Regions from separate parts of the Homo sapiens genome. Here region 1 is linked to region 2. The links come from fine-mapping of genetic effects on plasma protein levels. A gene starts in region 2. The other region holds a variant in brackets. All regions are shown on one strand. Distances are from middle to middle.

Evidence for each region. PIP is the posterior inclusion probability: the model's chance that the variant is causal. Protein levels are from antibody-based Olink assays in UK Biobank. Linkage for the fine-mapping came from a reference panel and not from the study's own genotypes, which makes the PIPs less certain.
Region 1: its variant is fine-mapped to the plasma level of the CA6 protein (UK Biobank, PIP 0.93).

What each region holds. Positions count from the first base shown.
Region 1 is chr1:8,968,502-8,977,217 of GRCh38, forward strand. It overlaps CA6 (carbonic anhydrase 6), which reads left to right. Exons shown (of 8, transcript NM_001215.4): 7 at 2,366-2,480; 8 at 6,121-6,591. The coding sequence ends at 6,203. Among named protein-coding and RNA genes, the nearest start is that of CA6, 27 kb to the left of the region's middle. The variant G/A (reference allele first, on the strand shown) is at 979.
Region 2 is chr1:8,940,659-8,949,478 of GRCh38, forward strand. CA6 (carbonic anhydrase 6) reads left to right here and starts at 5,210. Exons shown (of 8, transcript NM_001215.4): 1 at 5,210-5,307; 2 at 8,605-8,784. The coding sequence starts at 5,229.

The DNA of each region.
Region 1 (8,716 bases), 28 kb after region 2:
GAAAAAAAGACATTATAGATGAGAACCAGCAGAATCAGACCTACAAAGACTTCAGTTAGTGGAATTATCAGACAATTAATATGACATAAGAATGTTTAACATGTATAAAGAAATAAAAGGTTTAAATATGAGAAAAGAGCAAAAAAGTATAAAAATGGACATCCAGACTTGGGACAAAAACTCAAATAGAATTTCTAGAAATGGAAAAATAGTATCAAAAATTAATAATCCAGGCCAGTTGTGGTGTCTCATGCCTGTAATCCCAGCACTTTGGGAGGCCAAAGTGGGTGGATCACCTGAGGTCAGGAGTTTGAGATCAGCCTGGCCAACATGGTGGAACCCCGTCTCTACTAAAAGTACAAAAAATTAGCCAGTCGTGGTGGTGGGGCGCTTGTAATCCCAGCTACCCCAGAGGCTGAGGTGGAAGAATCACTTGAACCTGGGACGTGGAGGTTGCAGTGAGCCAAGATTGCACTACTGCACTCCAGCCTGGGCAACAGAGCAAAACCCTGTCTCAAAAAAAAAAAAAGTTTGCTGGGCACGGTGGCTCAAGCCTGTAATCCCAGCACTTTGGGACGCCAAAGCGGGTGGATCACGAGGTCAGGGGTTCGAGACCAGCCTGGCCAACATGGTGAAACCCTGTCTCTACTAAAGATACAAAAAATTAGCCGGGCATAGTGGTGTGAACCTATAATCCCAGCCACTCAGGAGGCTGAGGCAGGAGAATCGCTTGAACCCAGGAGGCGGATGTTGCAGTGAGCTGAGATCATGCCATTGCACTCCAGCCTGGGCAACAGGGCAAGACTCCATCTCAAAAAAACAAAAACAAAAACCCAATGAATGGGTTTAACGCATGTTAGATACAGTTTGAGAGAGAATTAGTAAATTGGAGACAGCCAATAACATTATCTAGAATGCAGCACAGAGAAAAGGAGATGGAACTATGAAAAGAAGTGAAGAGACATTGTGTACTGGAAA[G/A]GTCTAGTAAATGTCTAATCAAAATCCTAGAAGGAGAAGAGAGGCAGAGTAGGGAAGAGGCATGATTTGACAAAATATTGGCTGACAATTTTCAGGAAGAGATACCAAGTCATATATTCAAGAATGCCAATTAGTTTCTCTCTCTGTCTCTCTCTCTCTCTGGGTGTGTAGATATGTGTGTGTGTGTATACACAACATCCTGCAGTAAACGCATCACATTGAAATCATCAAAGACAAAGAAACTATTTAAAAATTAGCCAGAAAGAAAAGACAGATTATCATGAAAAGAGTATTATTAGACAGAGAGTTGATTTAACAGCCACAGTGAAAGTCAGAAGGGAGTGGAAACATAATTTCAAAGTGCCGAGGGAAAAAAAATAGCCAATATAGAATTGTATGTGCAGCAAAGATGCCTTTCAAGGATATAGACAAAATACAGACATTTTCAGGTCAGGTGAGGTGGTTCATACCTGTAATTCCAGCACTATGGGAGGCTGAGTGGGCGAATGGCCTGAGGAGTTTGAGACCAGCCTGGCCCACATGGTGAAACCCCATCTCTACTAAAAATATAAAAATTATCTGGGTGTGTGGGTGGGTGCCTGTAGTCCCAGCTAGTCAGGAGGCTGAGGCAGGAGAGAATAACTTGAACCCGGGAGGTGGAGGTTGCAGTGAGCCGCAATCGCGTCACTGCACTCCAGCCTGGCGACAGAGCGAGACTCTGGTCTCAAAAAAAAAAAAAAAAAAAAAAGAGAAAAACCTGACATTTTCAGAAAAACAAAAATTGAGTTTGCCACTTGATATATTTCTGCTTCTTCTTTCTCTCCTTTCTACTACTGGACAAATACTCATATAAAAAGCTGAAAAGAGAGCTTGTGTGCAGATACCTGTTGGAAGAATGCACGGATAGATTAGTTCTGGAATAATGCCTGAGACACAGCACCCAGAACCTCCCCTGGACTTGAGATCTTCTTACAGTCACTTCATCAGGGTTATATAAATCCAAACTCTAGCCCAGTTGTTAATTCTTTTTTATTTTTTATTTTTTTTGAGACAGAGTTTCTCTCTGTCTCCCAGGCTGGAGTGCGGTTGCGTGATACTGGCTTACTGCAGCCTCTGCCTCCCAGGTTCAAGCGATTCTCCTGCCTCAGCCTCCTGAGTAGCTGGGATTACAGGTGCACACAACCATGATCAGCTAATTTTTAGTAGAGAAGAGGTTTCACCATGTTGGCCAGGCTGGTCTCCAACTCCTGAGCTCAAGTGATCTGCCCGCCCCAGCCTCCCAAAATGCTGGGATTACAGGCGTGAGCCACTGCGCCGGGCCAACTGTTATTTCTTTTAAATTACCCAGTGACTCTTCCCCTCCATAATGCACTCACGTTGCCCCCAGGTTTGGAAGCTGGAGAATTCCTTACTGGATCACCGCAACAAGACCATCCACAACGATTACCGCAGGACCCAGCCCCTGAACCACAGAGTGGTGGAATCCAACTTCCCGAATCAGGGTGAGTGAGACCGACTCTTGATCATGCTCTGCAGTTTAACTCCTGTTTTGCTCCTTCCTCTAGGTGGACCCATCTCTTCTGGTGATATAAGGGAAGGAGAGTCATTTCAGTAGCAAGAGGCTCAGGTGGGCCAAGCTGCACAGGGCTTGGGCAGAGGGTGATGACTTTTTCCCAGTCCAGGCAGGGATGCCAGTGAGTAGAACACACGAGACAATCAGAAGCGACAGCTACGTGATTTATTACCTACCTAGTCTTGGCTAGAGAGAGCAGGAGAAGCAAGAAGACCACAACATCCGGAAGCTCTCACAAGAGTGTAGGTTCAAGTTAACCTTTTTTTTTTTTTTTTTTGAGACAGAGTCTCACTCTGTCACCCAGGCTGGAGTGCAGTGGTGCAATCTCGTCTCACTACAACCTCTGCTTCCCGGGTTCAAGCAATTCTCCTGCCTCAACCTCCCCAGTAGCTGGGACTACAGGCACCTACCACCACGCCCGGCTAATTTTTTTTTTTTAACTGAAATGGGGCTTTGCCATATTGGCCAGGCTGGTCCCAAACTCCTGACCTCAGGTGATCTGCCCACCTCGGCCTCCCAAAGTGCTGGGATTACAGGCGGGAGCCACCGTGCCTGGCCAAGTTAACCTTATTAACCCCACCCAGATTATTTCCTGCGCATCTTGATCATAGTCTGTGTTATGAACCCACCCCCAACGCCTCCTATACATTCTCTCAAAGTGGAGTTAACTAGACCACATATTGTTCCCTGCATCTGCCTGGGGCGCAGGCCCCAGACCCCAGCGTGCTGGAAGCAGGTGCGGGCAGGCCAGCCTCCGCTGCATCCTCCAGTTCCTTGGATCAGGCTCCAACCGTGTCCTTGGCTCACCTCGTTTCTGTGTTGGCAAGAGTGTAAATATTTCACAGCCTCCTCATCTTTATTTTGTCTGCTTTCTGTAAAGTTGTGGTGAATCCATTGTCTTTACAGCCCATTCTGTTAACCATTCCTGATACCTTTATATTTTCCAATACAGTAGAATCAGTATCCTATCAATATTGTGTACTCAATATTATCCCACTTTTTTTTTCTTTTTTGAGACAAGGTCTCAGTCTGTTGCCCAGGCTGGAGCTCAGTGGCACAATCACGGCTCACTGCAGCCTCAAACATCCAGGCTCAAGTGATCCTCCCACCTCAGCCTCCCCAGTAGCGGAGACTGCAGGCACACACCACCACACCCAGCTAATTTTTTTTGTAGTTTTTGTAGAGATGGACTCTTACTATGTTGCTCAGACTGGTCTCAAACTCCTGGCCACAAGCAATCCTCCCCCCTCAGCCTCCCAAAGTGCTGGGATTATAAGCACGAGCCACCTCGTTCGGCCTTATCCCATCTTTATATGTACCTTTTAAAACTTAAATTTCCTCCGGGTGTGGCGGCTCACGCCTGTAATCCCAGCACTTTGGGAGGCTGAGGCGGGCAGATCACGATGTCAGGAGATCGAGACCATCTTGGCTAACATGGTGAAACCCCGCCTCTACTAAATATACAAAAAATTAGCCAGGCGAGGTGGCGGGCGCCTGTAGTCCCAGCTACTGGGGAGGCTGAGACTGGGGAGGCTGAGTAGCTGGGCATGAACCCGGGAGGCGGAGCTTGCAGTGAGCCGAGATTGCGCCACTGCACTCCAGCCTGGGCGACAGAGAGAGACTCTGTTTCAAAAAACCAAAACAAACAAACAAACAAAAAAATTAAATTTCCACCTCCCCAACCCGAATAAGGCCTATTTGTGATTTTCTCCCCACCTTTCCTTCCTGGTTCACTTACTGAATTAACAGAGGATATAGGTGTTTTCTATATTGTTTCCTGAAATACAATTCACTCCTCCAATACAATACTAACAGAAGAAAAAAACTGACATCAGTTACAGTAATCATTTCCCCATATTATACCATATACAACATTAACAGCAAGAATCCCTTTGTCCGAAAGTGATGTCGTCTTTAACAGGTCCAATTGCAAGCAGGCTGACCAAAGGGAGCTTAGACTCATGGGTCTGTCTCCTAATTCTTTTGGAGTCTCTCACTCTGTCGCCCAGGCTGGAGTGCAGTGGTGCAATCTCATGGGCTCACTGCAACCTCCGCCTCCCAGATTCAAGCAATTCTCCTGCCTCAGCCTCCCAAGTAGCTGGGATTACAGGCACGCGCCCCCACGCCAGGCTAATTTTTGTATTTTTAGTAGAGATGGGATTTCACCATGTTGGTTAGGCTGGTCTTGAACTCCTGACCTCAGGTGATCCGCCTGCCCGGCCTCCCAAATTGCTGGGATTACAGGTGTGAGTCACTGTGCCCGGCCTGTCTCCTAGGTCTAAATGTTGCCATATTTCCCCTGCTTTCCCTAAAACAATTTTACGCTATTCTTGCAATAGTCACTAACAGACTGCGTATCGTTCTATTTGCCACATCTGAAATGCTTTTTCCACTACAGCGTCACTCTAGCATCTCCTCACGAGGGGGTCAGATGTTCTAGGTACCGGCCCCAGACTGAGGTATTCCATGCTGTGATTTGTCTGTAGGTCCACTAAGAATCGCTGTTTAGGATCGATTACTTCAACTCCCAGTTCAGCATCAGAGGGCTTCCTTACCCCCAGGGAACCCGAATTGTGGCCTCCCTTTGCTGATTATAGAACAGACAACTGGGCATCATCTTGGCCCACCTTCCCTCAGGCCTGGATTTTTCTTTCTCTCTCTTTCTTTCTTTCTTTCTTTCTTTCTTTCTTTCTTTCTTTCTTTCTTTCTTTCTTTCTTTCTTTCTTTCTTTCTTTTCCCTCCCTCCCTCTCTCTCTCTCTCTCTCTCTTTCTTCCTCTCTTTCTTTCTTTTTTTGACAGAGTCTTGCTCTGTTGCCCAGACTGGAGTGCAATGGCGCAATCTTGGCTCACTGCAGCCATGACCTCCAGGGCTCAAGCAGTCCTCCTACCTCGACCTCCCAAGTAGCTGGGAGTAGCATGTACCACCACACCCAGCTAATTTTTGTATTTTTTTGTAGAGACGGGCTTTGGCCATGTGGCCCAGGCTGGTCTCGAACTCCTGAGCTCAAGCAATCCACCCACTTCAGCCTCCCAAAGTGCTGGGATTACAGGCATGAGCCATCGCGCCTGGCCAGGCCCAGATTTCTATGTAGCAGTGATTGGCTGTGGTCAACCCAGCTGCGTGACTCATGGTATTTCACTGTTCTGTAGAGAACTGTATCCCAGCGGGGTTGATATGATTAACCCACCTGCAAGGAGTGAATTGAGAAACCAAGGTCAGTTACAAAAACAAGACGATGGCCAAATACGGACCTCTTGCGATTTATTTACTAGAAAACGCCTATATCCCCTCAGGCAAGGGCCACGGGGGGCATCGTGGGAGAAGCCAAAATCCAAGAGTACAGCCCACCTCAACACGCCACCCCTTGGCTCTGGGCAGCTTAGAAGCCTGAGTTCAAACACAGTGAAGATGACTAAAGGCAATGCACCGGGCACGTGGAGAGCATTCTAAGGAATCAAAAGACTTCCCAAAAATACGATGCGGGTATGGTGTCTGGCCGTCCCCCTTCTCTGTTTTTGTGAGGACTGTACAAGGTTTAACCATTTCCGACTAACTCTTCTTTTTACAGAATACACTCTAGGCTCTGAATTCCAGTTTTACCTACATAAGATTGAGGAAATTCTTGACTACTTAAGAAGAGCATTGAACTGAGGAAAGCTAAGAGGAAGATTCAATATTAACTAGCTTGAAGCCTGACCTAGCCAGAAGTGCCTGTCCGCTGCAGCCGCACCCTACCTTGTCTAAGAAACCATGTGTGTCTGGAACACGCTGCTCCCCCTGGGGCAGCTGTTGGGATTCTGATTAAAAGAGGGGAAACGATCATCCTGGACAGGAAGTGAGATGGCTTCAGTTCATGAGACGGGATCTGAGTTAGACATCACCAGTGGAAATTGATTGGAATAGAAACTTAAAGGAAATGGAACCCTAACTATTCTCCCATCAAATCATATATGTTGACCTGTCTGAATTATAAACCAGCCTGACCTTTCCTTTAGCATTAGATGTAATAAAATAACTTTGGAAATTTGTCATTTAAAAATTTCTTTCCTATTCCTTTGTATTACTTCAAATATCCCTTCTTTGTTCTGCCCGCCCCCGACTCCTCCCCCCACTCCTCCCCCTACTCCCCCACAACCGCACATAGGTGAAGGGATAGAGATCAAAGTGGGAGGGATTTCCAAGACTAAGATTAATAAAAAGGAAGGAGGTGTTTTTTGTTGTTGTTGCTTATTTTTTTGAGATGGAGTCTCACTCTGTTGCCAGGCTGGAGTGCAGTGGCACAATCTTGGCTCACTGCAACCTCCACCTCTTGGGTTCAAGCAATTCTCCTGCCTCAGCCTCCCTGAGTAGCTGGGACTACAGTTGCGCACCACCATGCCCAGCTAATTTTTTGTATTTTTAGTAGAGACGGGGTTTCACCATGTTGCTCAGGATGGTCTCGATCTCTTGACCTTATGATCCGCCCGCCTCGGCCTCCCAAAGTGCTGGGATTACAGGCGTGAGCCACCGCGCCTGGCCTTTTCTTTTCCTTTGAGACAGAGCCTCGCTTTGTTGCTCAGGCTGGAATCCAGTGGTATAATTTTACTGCAACCTCTGCCTTCTGGGTTCAAGCAATTATTCTGCCTCAGCCTCCCAAGTAGTTGGGATTACAGGTGTGCACCACCACGCCCAGCTAATTTTTGTATTTTTAGTAGAGATGGGGTTTTGCCATGTTGGCCAGGCTGGTCTCAAACTCCTGATCTCAGGTGATCCTCCTGCCTCGGCCTCCCAAAGTGTTGGGATTACGGGCGTGAGCCACCACCCCTGGCCTAGGAAGAGATTCTTACACTGAGAATTTGTCAGTGGGGAAGTTTGGAGCAGTGGCTGTGAGTCAAAGAAAAAACAGGAGACGAGAAAGAAGAAGGGCTCCCAGGACAGAAGGAAAGAAGAGAGGGGACCTCACTGCAAACCCCCTTGTTGGTCAAATGGTGCCTGGTCCTTGTTACCAGACCCAGATTCAGGCATCCCATTAGTTATGTGGGATGATAACATGACCTCACAGGGCTCATAGGGCTGTGGCTTCATTAAATAACACTGAGAAGTACCCAGAAGAGTGACCCATATTTTTTTTATCATTAAATAACACTGAGAAGTACCCAGAAGAGTGACCCATATTTTTTATTTTTATTTTTATGTTTTTTGAGACAGGATCTTGCTCTGTGGCCTAGGCTGGAGTGCAGTGGTGATCCTAGCTTCATGGCAGCCTCAACCTCCTGGGCTCAAGTGATCTTCCTACCTTTGGTCTCCCAAGGTGCTGGAATTATAGGCATGAGCCACCACACCTGGCTGCTACCAATTTTCTTGGTCACTTATGCATTCCCTTCATCGATGCCCCTTCCTTCCCATGCCTTAGCTTCCTCCTCACTTCTGATTGAGCTCACCCTGGCTCTTCTGAATTCCTTCTGCTCTTGTTACCTCTGTTGTTTTTCCATGTCATTATTTGTCATATCCTAAGCACTTCCACCACACGTGACTGCCCTCAGCCCCGAAGGCCACCTTCAGTGAACTTGCATTATCCCCAGTTTACAGAAAGCAAACCAAGACGTCGACTTGCCCAAGATCTCCTAGGTGGCAGATGAAAAGCCAGGATTTGAACCCAAGTCTTTTGTATCCACATTCTTTTAACCATAGGAAGCCTCCCTTTCATTTTCTCAACAAGCTTTCTTATGCACTTGCTCTGAGCCTGACATAACACTAGGTGCTGGGGGTTCAGGGATGGGTGAGAACAGCTCCCACACTCCTACAGCTCGGGTCTGGTGAGCAGAGTGGACACTAAAATAAGTAATCGCCATATCGCCCCATGGTGGAGGGAGCGCCTGTGTTTAAAATCCAAGTGCTTGGCCTGGGTTTTGAAGGCTGAGAAAGAGTTCACCTGGGAAACCAAGTCAGAGAGGGGCGGGGGTATTGTAACCCGAGAGTGTGGCATGTGCTGATGGGAAGACACCTGGGGAAGTGGAAGCAATTTGGCGTGGTCAGAGGACCAAGTTCAAGGATGCTGGCACGGAAAGCGGGGGTGTGGCCAGGGCAGGTCAGGCCGTCACTGGTATCTTCTGTGCCACTAAAGGGTTTCGGATTTTACCCTGTAGGTGACGGCAGCGACTGCAGGGTTTCCACAGGGGAACGAC
Region 2 (8,820 bases):
GCATCAAAATGCCGAAGGCATTTCAGAGTGTGTGTATTTTAGGTAGAGGACAGTCTCTGGGCTGTTGGCTTAGCTCTATCCATTCTTCTTGGACATGTAATTTTAAGAAGTGTGGTCATCTGGTTTCTGCCAAACAGATGAGGAAGCCAGGAGATGAGAACAGACAGACAACCCTAAGAGGCAAGAGCTGGAAGCCCATGTTAGAAATGCTAATAGTGGGCCAGGCGCGGTGGCTCACACCTGTAATCTCAGCACTTTGGGAGGCCAAGGCAGGCGGATCACCTCAGGTCAGGAATTCAAGACCAGCCTGACCAACATGGTGAAACCCCGTCTCTACTAAAAATACAAAAATTAGCCAGGCATGGTGGTGGGCGCCTGTAATCCCAGCTACTTGGGAGGCTGAGGCCGGAGAGTCACTTGAACCCGGGTGGTGGAGGTTGCAGTGAGCCGAGATCACGCCATTGCACTCCAGCCTGGGCAACAAGAGTGAAGCTTCATCTCAAAAAAAAAAAAAAAAAAAAGAAAAGAAAAAAAGAAAGAAATGCTAACAATGAAAAAACAATGAAAAACAAAATCAATACACACACAATGGTACCTCCAGCTGCTCCTGCCGCTCAGCCCTTCCCAAGAACTTCCCAATCTCCCTACAATCCACCAATCCAGGGTTAACTCCTGGCAGAGCAGGGAGCTTTCAGACTTTCCTCCACACCAAGTCTGGCTTCTGTCCTGATTGGTTATGTCCCAGCCTTATGGATACCCCTGAGCATAAACGTGCATTGCTTTAGTAATCAATTAAGCTAGCTAACTTTCCTCTCTCAGTATCTGGTAAAAGAAATCCAAAAACTACAGTTAGGGGTCATTTCTTTCCTTTCTTTCTTTTTTTTTTTGAGACGATGGAGTCTCCCTCTTGAGCCTCCCGAGTAGCTGGGATCACAGGCACATGCCACCATGCCTGGCTACTTTTGTATTTTCAGAAGAGACGGGGTTTCACCATGTTGGCCAAGCTGGGCTCGAACTCCTGACCTCAGGTGATCCATCCCCCTTGGCCTCCCAAAGTGCTGGGATTATAGGTGTGAGCCACTGTGCCTGGCCAGGGGTCGTTTCTTGCAGGGAGAATTATATATATATGTTATATGTTATAGGCCCAGCAGACATCAATATATTACAATGCAGGAGAATAATTGATGTTCATATTAGTGGGACTCAGTCATTAAGAAAAGTTTAATAAAATTCAGCTTTATCTTTTTAAAACTGTACCGTACATTTTAGAGGTTTTAAACATCTTGGTGCTTACATAGGATTGAGCCTGTAACCATCTAGAACTTACTTGTTCAGAGTGACTCATTCTTCAGGATGAGCTCACACTCCTGCATGAAACAGAACAATAGCCTTTCTGTGTTACTTACACCCAAATAAGCATATTCTTGTGTAGGCAGACTCTTTCTTTTTTGTTTGTTTTTTGTTTGTTTTTGTTGTTGTTTTTGAGACAGAGTCTCGTTCTGTTGCCCAGGCTGGAGTGCAGTGGCGTGATCTCAGTTCGCTGCAACCTCTGCCTCCTGGGTTCAAGTGATTCTCATGGCTCGGCCTCCCAAGTAGCTGGAATTACAGGCACGCACCACTATGCCTGGCTAATTTTTGTATTTTTAGTAGAGACGGGGTTTCACCATGTTGCCCAGGCTGGTCTTGAACTCCTGACATCAGGTGATCCACCCACCTCGGCCTCCCCAAGTGCTGGGATTACAGGTGTGAGCCACCGTGCCTGGCCTGCCAGACTCATTCTTTTATGCTGGTCCTGTGCAGCCTGGGCTAACGGTGCCTCCCTAGTCATTTGGTTCATGATCTGTCCCTGCTCACCTGGGCTGATGGTGCCTTCTTGCCCACCTGGGCTGGCCATGCCTCCCTGCCTCCTTCTTTTTCCTTGCCTCAGTGGGCCTTGTCGGGGGGGCAGTGGTAGAAGCAAGGAAGAACAAAGGCTCCTTTCTCCCTTTGACCTGATGTTGTAATAATGATAAACTTGTCAACTCATCTCCGACAGCCAATCCAACCATAGACCCTAGAAAAATAGGAGTTTAGAATTAAAAAAACAACCTTGATCAGCCAAGGATATGGTTGGATGAAGGCAGAAGGAAGCTCATAGCATAGAGAGACACACTAAAAATAAAAGCAACAAAAACAGAGCACACATAGGGCACGCACCTGTTGTCCCAGCTACTTGGAGGGGATGAGGCGGAAGGGGGTGCTGAGGCGGGAGGATCACCTGAGCACTGGGAGGCTGCAGTGAGCCATGATTGCACCACTGCACTCCAGCCTGGGCAACAGAGTGAGACCCTGTCTCAAAAAAGAAACCAAAAACCAAAAACAACAACAACAAAAACCCACTGCCACCACCACCAACAAAAGCAAACCCAAACAAACAATGTGCCTCCCAAATCCAAGAAGAAGACTCATGTTCAAAGGTGACGGAAAATTTCAGGTTTGAAGTAGACAAGGAGTCAGAAAATAGGCAACACTACTGACCACACCTGATTCTGGGTCCAGTATGTCCTTGGCAGTGTGCTGTACAGCGGAGGGAGGGGACCCTCTCTCTAGAAATATGCCCTCGTTGGCAGATGGCCTTGCTTCTCCAAGAGGCCATCATCTGATCTGACCCCCGTATTGCCTTAATTACTCACTTTCACACCAATTCTCAACACCAGCCAGGTCAACAGGTTGCTGGCCAGTCCAGGCTCTTGCCTGAGCGAAAGGCAAAACCAGGGCAAAGCTTCAGATGTGATGGGTGGATACGCTGCACAGCAGTTCTGCAGAGGGGCTGCTGGCATCACAGCTTCACAGACGCAGTATGTGCACTGTATTTTAAGGAGCTGTGTGAGGCAAGGAACGCCCCAGAGCTCTCCTGGGAAGCCCCAAATGCTCACCGCAGGGCAGTGAGACCCGTGGGGCTGGGAGCTGCCAGGAGTGGTGGGCCCTCTGCATTTCACTGTGCTCTCCCGCAAGCACTCCTCTCTCTGACTCTCCAGGGCCCCTCTTTGGGCAGTCTTCCCCTCCCCCTTGGCCCAGGCTTTCTCTGAGCTCCTTCCTGCTCCAGTTCCCCTCGCCTGGGCTCATCCAGTCCTCCCAGGCTTCCGTGACAGCCTGACATTTTAGTCTCTGCCTGCCTGCAGCTCCCTGATTCTTTCTGGGTCTCCCAATTCAGATTCCCAAGAAAAAATTCAGATGACTGAGTTTGTGTTTTCCTGCCAGTTTGATGTCAGGGGTCCTGCCTGGGCTTGTAAAGGGTCTTGGTCTCCTCAGCAGAGGTGGGGCCTTGTGATTTACAAGGTGGCCCTTTCCGCAGGGCTGGGAGTCAGCAGGTGGGCGTCACTGGTTTAGCAAGGACAGAAGAGTAGGTTTCTCATTTTTGCAAAGAAATGGTCCATAAGCTGGAGATTGAAGCATTTTTCCTCCAGTTCCCTCACTAACCAGCTGGGTGGCAATGATAAATCACTTCCTTTTCCTATAAAATGAGGGGTCTGAATAGATGCTAATGCCATTTGCTACACACCAGGCACTGCTCCAACTACTGCAGGCACATTTATTGCCGAATCCCCACAAAGGAGGTGCTATCACTAACTCCTTTTAAAGAAAGGAGGCGGCCAGGTGCGGCGGCTCACGCCTGTAATCCCAGCACTTTGGGAGCACGAGGCGGGAGAATCGCTTGAGTCCAGGAGTTTGAGGCCAGCCTAAGCAACATGGTGAAAACCTGTATCTACAAAAAGTACAAAAATTAGCAGGGCGTAGTGGCATGCGACTGTGGTCCCAGCTACTTGGGAAGCTGAGGCAGGAGGATTGCTTGAGTCCAAGAGAAGTGAGCTGAAATCGTATCATTGCACTCCAGCCTGGTGACAGAGAGAGACCCTGTCTCAAAAAAGAAAGAAAGAGAGAAAGAGAGAAAGAAAAGAAAGAGAGAAAGGAAGAAAGAAAGAGAAAAAAGAAAAGGAAGGAAAGCTGAGGCACAGAGCGCTGAGTTGCCCATGGTCACACAGTTAGCAGGTGGCACAGATCCTGTCTAGTTTCAGAATCCTTGTCCTTGAACATGCTTTGCTCTCTCTCTGAGATTCTTTCAGCTCTTGAGCTTTAGAAATGGAAGTTTCCAGCAAGTTCTTTGCAGCAGCTGATGTTCCCTATTAAATGACAGTGGGGAGTCTTAGAAGTATTCGGGAGGCCTACGTTCACCGCTAACATCCTTGTTGTGAAGGCCTGCTGACGTTTGCCATTCCAGGACCAAGTGGACAATGAGTTAAGCTAGGCCAGGAGGGGGTTCAGCTCCCCATAACAAGGCAGGGGTGGCCCTTTGTGTCCGGCAGCATGGTAGCCCCCCCGCAGGAGCTCCGGCTACCCTTTGTGTTTGACCTTGTGGAAGGGCATGGGAAATGCTGGCCTGTCAGCAGGCATAAACTCAAAAGTTTCTCCTTCAGCTAATTTCAGGGACTGTCTAGCCAAGTGAATACACAGGATTAGGTAATCCATGGATCCTGCGAGGGCAATTGGCTGATTGGCTTAGGTGTGCCCAAGAGCCCTGCAGGTGTCAGAACAAATCCATGTAGAAATGCAGACGCCCACACCAGCTTGAATGGCATAAAGGCACACATTGGAATGTGGCTCATGAGCTGGGACCCAGGATCAACCACTGGTTTAAGGAGAGGACCGTGAAATGTCCAAACATGGAGGCCAGGCCACCTCCCTGGATGCCTGGCTGAGGGCAGCCACATGTCTGCAGCGGTGGCTTGTGTCCATGACTGAGATGGGCAGGGTTTGCAGGCAGTGGTGATCCCATCAGCAGTCCCCAGATCTCTAATGTCAGGAGAAAGAGCATGGGAAGTCCGACGTCCAGGAAAGTCTTTCATCCTGCTTCTCCCTGCCTTGGGCCTTTTCCCATTTCCGCGGTCACCTGTCCACAATGGCTGCACTGTGTGGCTCTTCAGGTGTTCCTAAGACACTGAACAACCAAACCCATGGACTGACCGGATATGAAATTGACGTGGGAGGAGATCAGGCAGGTGCTGGGGCTGCCTGGCGCAATGCACGGAGCCAGAAGTGCTGTTATGGGGAGGGTGTTATTGTTTTAGTGGGTGCAGCAAAGGGTGGTTTAGCCAGCTGGGCAGATCAATTGTAAATTGTTATTTACAGTTTCTGAGCCTTTAAAAGAAGAGCTTCGCCGGAATCAGTCTTCATTACAGATGTGCAGCACCATGAGGGCCCTGGTGCTTCTGCTGTCCCTGTTCCTGCTGGGTGGCCAGGCCCAGCATGTGTCTGACTGGACCTACTCAGGTGAGCCCCTAGCTTCTGCATGCTCCCCCAGTTACCCTCACACCCTTACAACAGGACAAGTGCCCTTCTTCTTCTTCTTTTTTTTTTTTTTAGACAAAGTCTTGCTCTGTTGCCCAGGCTTGAGTACAGTAGTGTGATGTTGGCTCACTGCAACCTCCGCCTCCCGGGTTCAAGTGATTCTGCTGCCTTAGCCTCCCGAGTACCTGGGATTACAGGTGCCTGCCACCATGCCTGGCTAATTTTTGTATTTTTAGTAGAGACAGGGTTTCACCATGTTGTCCAGGCTGGTCTCGAACTCCTGACCTTAGGTGATCTGCCCATCTCCCAAAGTGCTGGGATTACAGGCATGAGCCATTGCGCCCGGCCAAGAGTCCTCCTTTAGGGCATTTCACAGGATGGCCAGGCAGCCCACTTGCCATATGTTGGGGGTCTGCTCATTGTGGCTTCAGATGTTACCTTTTCAGTGTCTCAGAAGGTATGGAGAATAAGCTGAACTTAAACTTCAAATAAGGAAAAGAAGGAAATAGCTTTCCCCTTCACAAACTCCTGATTTACTTACAGGCTTTTTGCTTTAAATTTTTTTCCATCCACAGTGTTGGCTGGTTCAAAAGCACACTCACTGCTTCTATTTGTAAAACCATTTGCTTTGTTGGTCCGTGTAAGTGGAAAACAAAGTTCTTAGAAAAGACTCTCGGTAACCTCACGGAAGGTGCTGTGGGGTTTGCGAGACCTTCTTTCTTGGAAATTTCATGGTAGGCAGTTTACCCAGAACATCTTGACATAAGGACCCAGTTCCCTTTGATCTGTGGGCTGCCAAAATGAGAGGTGTTTTTTTTTTTGTTTTTTTTTTTTTTTTGAGACAGAGTCTTGCTCTGTTGCCCAGGCTGGAGTTCAGTGGTGCCATCTCGGCTTACTGCAACCTCTGCCTCCTGGTTTCAAGCGATTCTCATGTCTTAGCCTCCCAAGTAGCTGGGATTACAGGCACTCATCACCATGCCTGGCTAACTTTTGTATTTTTAGTGGAGATGGGGTTTTACCACGTTGGCCAGGCTGTTCTCAAACTTCTGACCTCAAGTGATCCGCCCACCTTAGCCTCCCAAAGTGCTGGGATTACAGGCGTGAGCCACCGCGCCAGGCCCCAAACCAGACTTTTAAAATGTGAAATGTAAAATCCTGGCATTCAACATGGGTTCTGGTCCACATGTGAGCCAAAGCTAGAAGGCCGTGTCTGTGGACTTTGTGGACACTAAACAGCCCTTTCCAGGGGCAGTGAGGAGAGCTTCTTCCCGCATCCCCCTTCTTTCCATACGGGACCATGGATTGGGGCCCATGAGGAGGCTGGTGGCCGCTGGCTGATGCAGGAAGTGAGACAAACATCTGCTTCCTGCAGAGTCTGCCCCAGTTCAGCTGCTCCGGAAGCATTCCTTCAGGGTGAACGGGATGATCTGTTAAGTCAAGGGCAACGGAATTAGGGACATCCTGGGAGGTTCAGAAAGTCCAGCCAGCTCTGAACAACCGCTCTGTTCCTGAGGACAGTGATCTTACACATGGCAGTGCCTCGGAAGCCTGGGGCATTCTGCTTCACTTGGCCAAGCAGTGCAGGCAGGTGGTTCAGAGGTGAAGGAAGAGAGAATTCAGACAATGAAGTCCTTGTCCTTCCCAGGCTCTGCCCAGCCTCTGAGACAGTGGGCTTCCTGGGAAACTACTAGGGGCTCCAGGAGAACTTGAGAGTAGCTTTTGTAAATGCCTTCCAGGGAAACCTGAGAGATGTTCCAGTATTGACAGTGCCCTGGGCCAAAGCATCTTGCTCTGAGAAGGCGTTGTGCTCCAGGCCAATTGCCTTGATTACAAACCAAAAAGCGGTGAGGGCCCTAGTACAGACACCTTTTTTTTTTTTTTTGAGAGTTTCACTCTCGTTGCCCAGGCTGGAGTGCAGTGGCGCGATCTCGGCTCACCGCAACCTCTGCCTCCTGGGTTCAAGTGATTCTCCTGCCTTAGCCTCTCAAGTAGCTGGGATTAACGGCATGTGCCACCATGCCCGGCTGATTGTTTTTTATTTTTAGTAGAGATGGAGTTTCTCCAGGTTTGTCAGGGTGGGTCTCGAGCTCCCAACCTTAGGTGATCCACCCGCCTCGGCCTCCCAAAGTGTTGGGATTACAGGCATGAGCCACCGTGCCCAGCCACAAACACCTGTCTTAAAACAAGCTGTGTACTCACCACACAGCTACCCCCGAACAGGGAACAGAGGTGGGATTCTCCATGTCACATGGCTGACTCCAAGCTCCACAGCTGTATGGGAGCCAAGTCACCATGATAATCACTCACCTATGTTACTCTGTCCCCTACGATTATCAACCCTCTCTGAAAAGATAAACTTTCTCCTTATGAATTTTAAAAAAGTACTCATTCTAGGTTGTCCTGGAACCTGATGCTTCCTTAGTTTCCCTGAATCCATAAGTGTAGACACCTAGATGGTCTTTACCATACGGGAATCCATAAAAGGGGCTGGAGCAAGAAAATAGTGGTGGGGGGTTCCTGCAGCATGGGGAGGTGGGGGCTGTGTTCCTGTTGGGGGCATGGAAGGACAACTGGGCCCTTGGGAGGAAATGAGGAAGAGGCCCCAGGAGCAGCACAGGAAGAGCAAAGCCAAGGATCCCTCCATGCATTCACCAGCTGGAAATAAGTCAAACGAGAGCAAAAATTTACGTATAAAACACTCTCAGGCCGGGCACGGTGGCTCACGCCTGTAATCCCAGCACTTTGGGAGGCCAAGGTGGGTGGATCACCTGAGGTCAGGAGTTAGAGATCAGCCTGGCCAACATGGTGAAACCCCGTCTCTACTAAAAATACAAAAATTAGCCAGGCGTGGTGGTGCATGCCTGTAATCCCAGCTACTCCGGAGGCTGATGCCGGATAATCTCTTGAATCTGGGAGGCAGAGGTTGCAGTGAGCCAAGATTGCACCACTGCACTCCAACCTGGGTGACACAGCGAGACCCTGTCTCAAAAAAAAAAAAAAAAGACTTCCATTGATTTCAAAACACTGTCTTGCTCCCAGGGCCAGCAGTTGCCACAGGAAAGTTAGAGGTTAGCACCAAAGCCCCCCAAACACCAGAGTCCTTGGAGTTGACCTCGTTGTCTTTTTGGCCTCCTTCTGGGGGACCTGCTTCTGCTTTCTGGAAGGTGCCTCCGTGGGTCCCCGCCCAGCAGGCCCTGGCCTCTGGCCTCTGGCCTGGTGAGGTTCCTCCAGAGTGGGCGCAGCCAGGCAGCCCCTTGAACTGTGTCTTTCCTGTCTTAGAAGGGGCACTGGACGAAGCGCACTGGCCACAGCACTACCCCGCCTGTGGGGGCCAGAGACAGTCGCCTATCAACCTACAGAGGACGAAGGTGCGGTACAACCCCTCCTTGAAGGGGCTCAATATGACAGGCTATGAGACCCAGGCAGGGGAGTTCCCCATGGTCAACAATGGCCACACAGGTAAGAGGAAGGGGTGGTGAGGGGCTCCAGTCCATG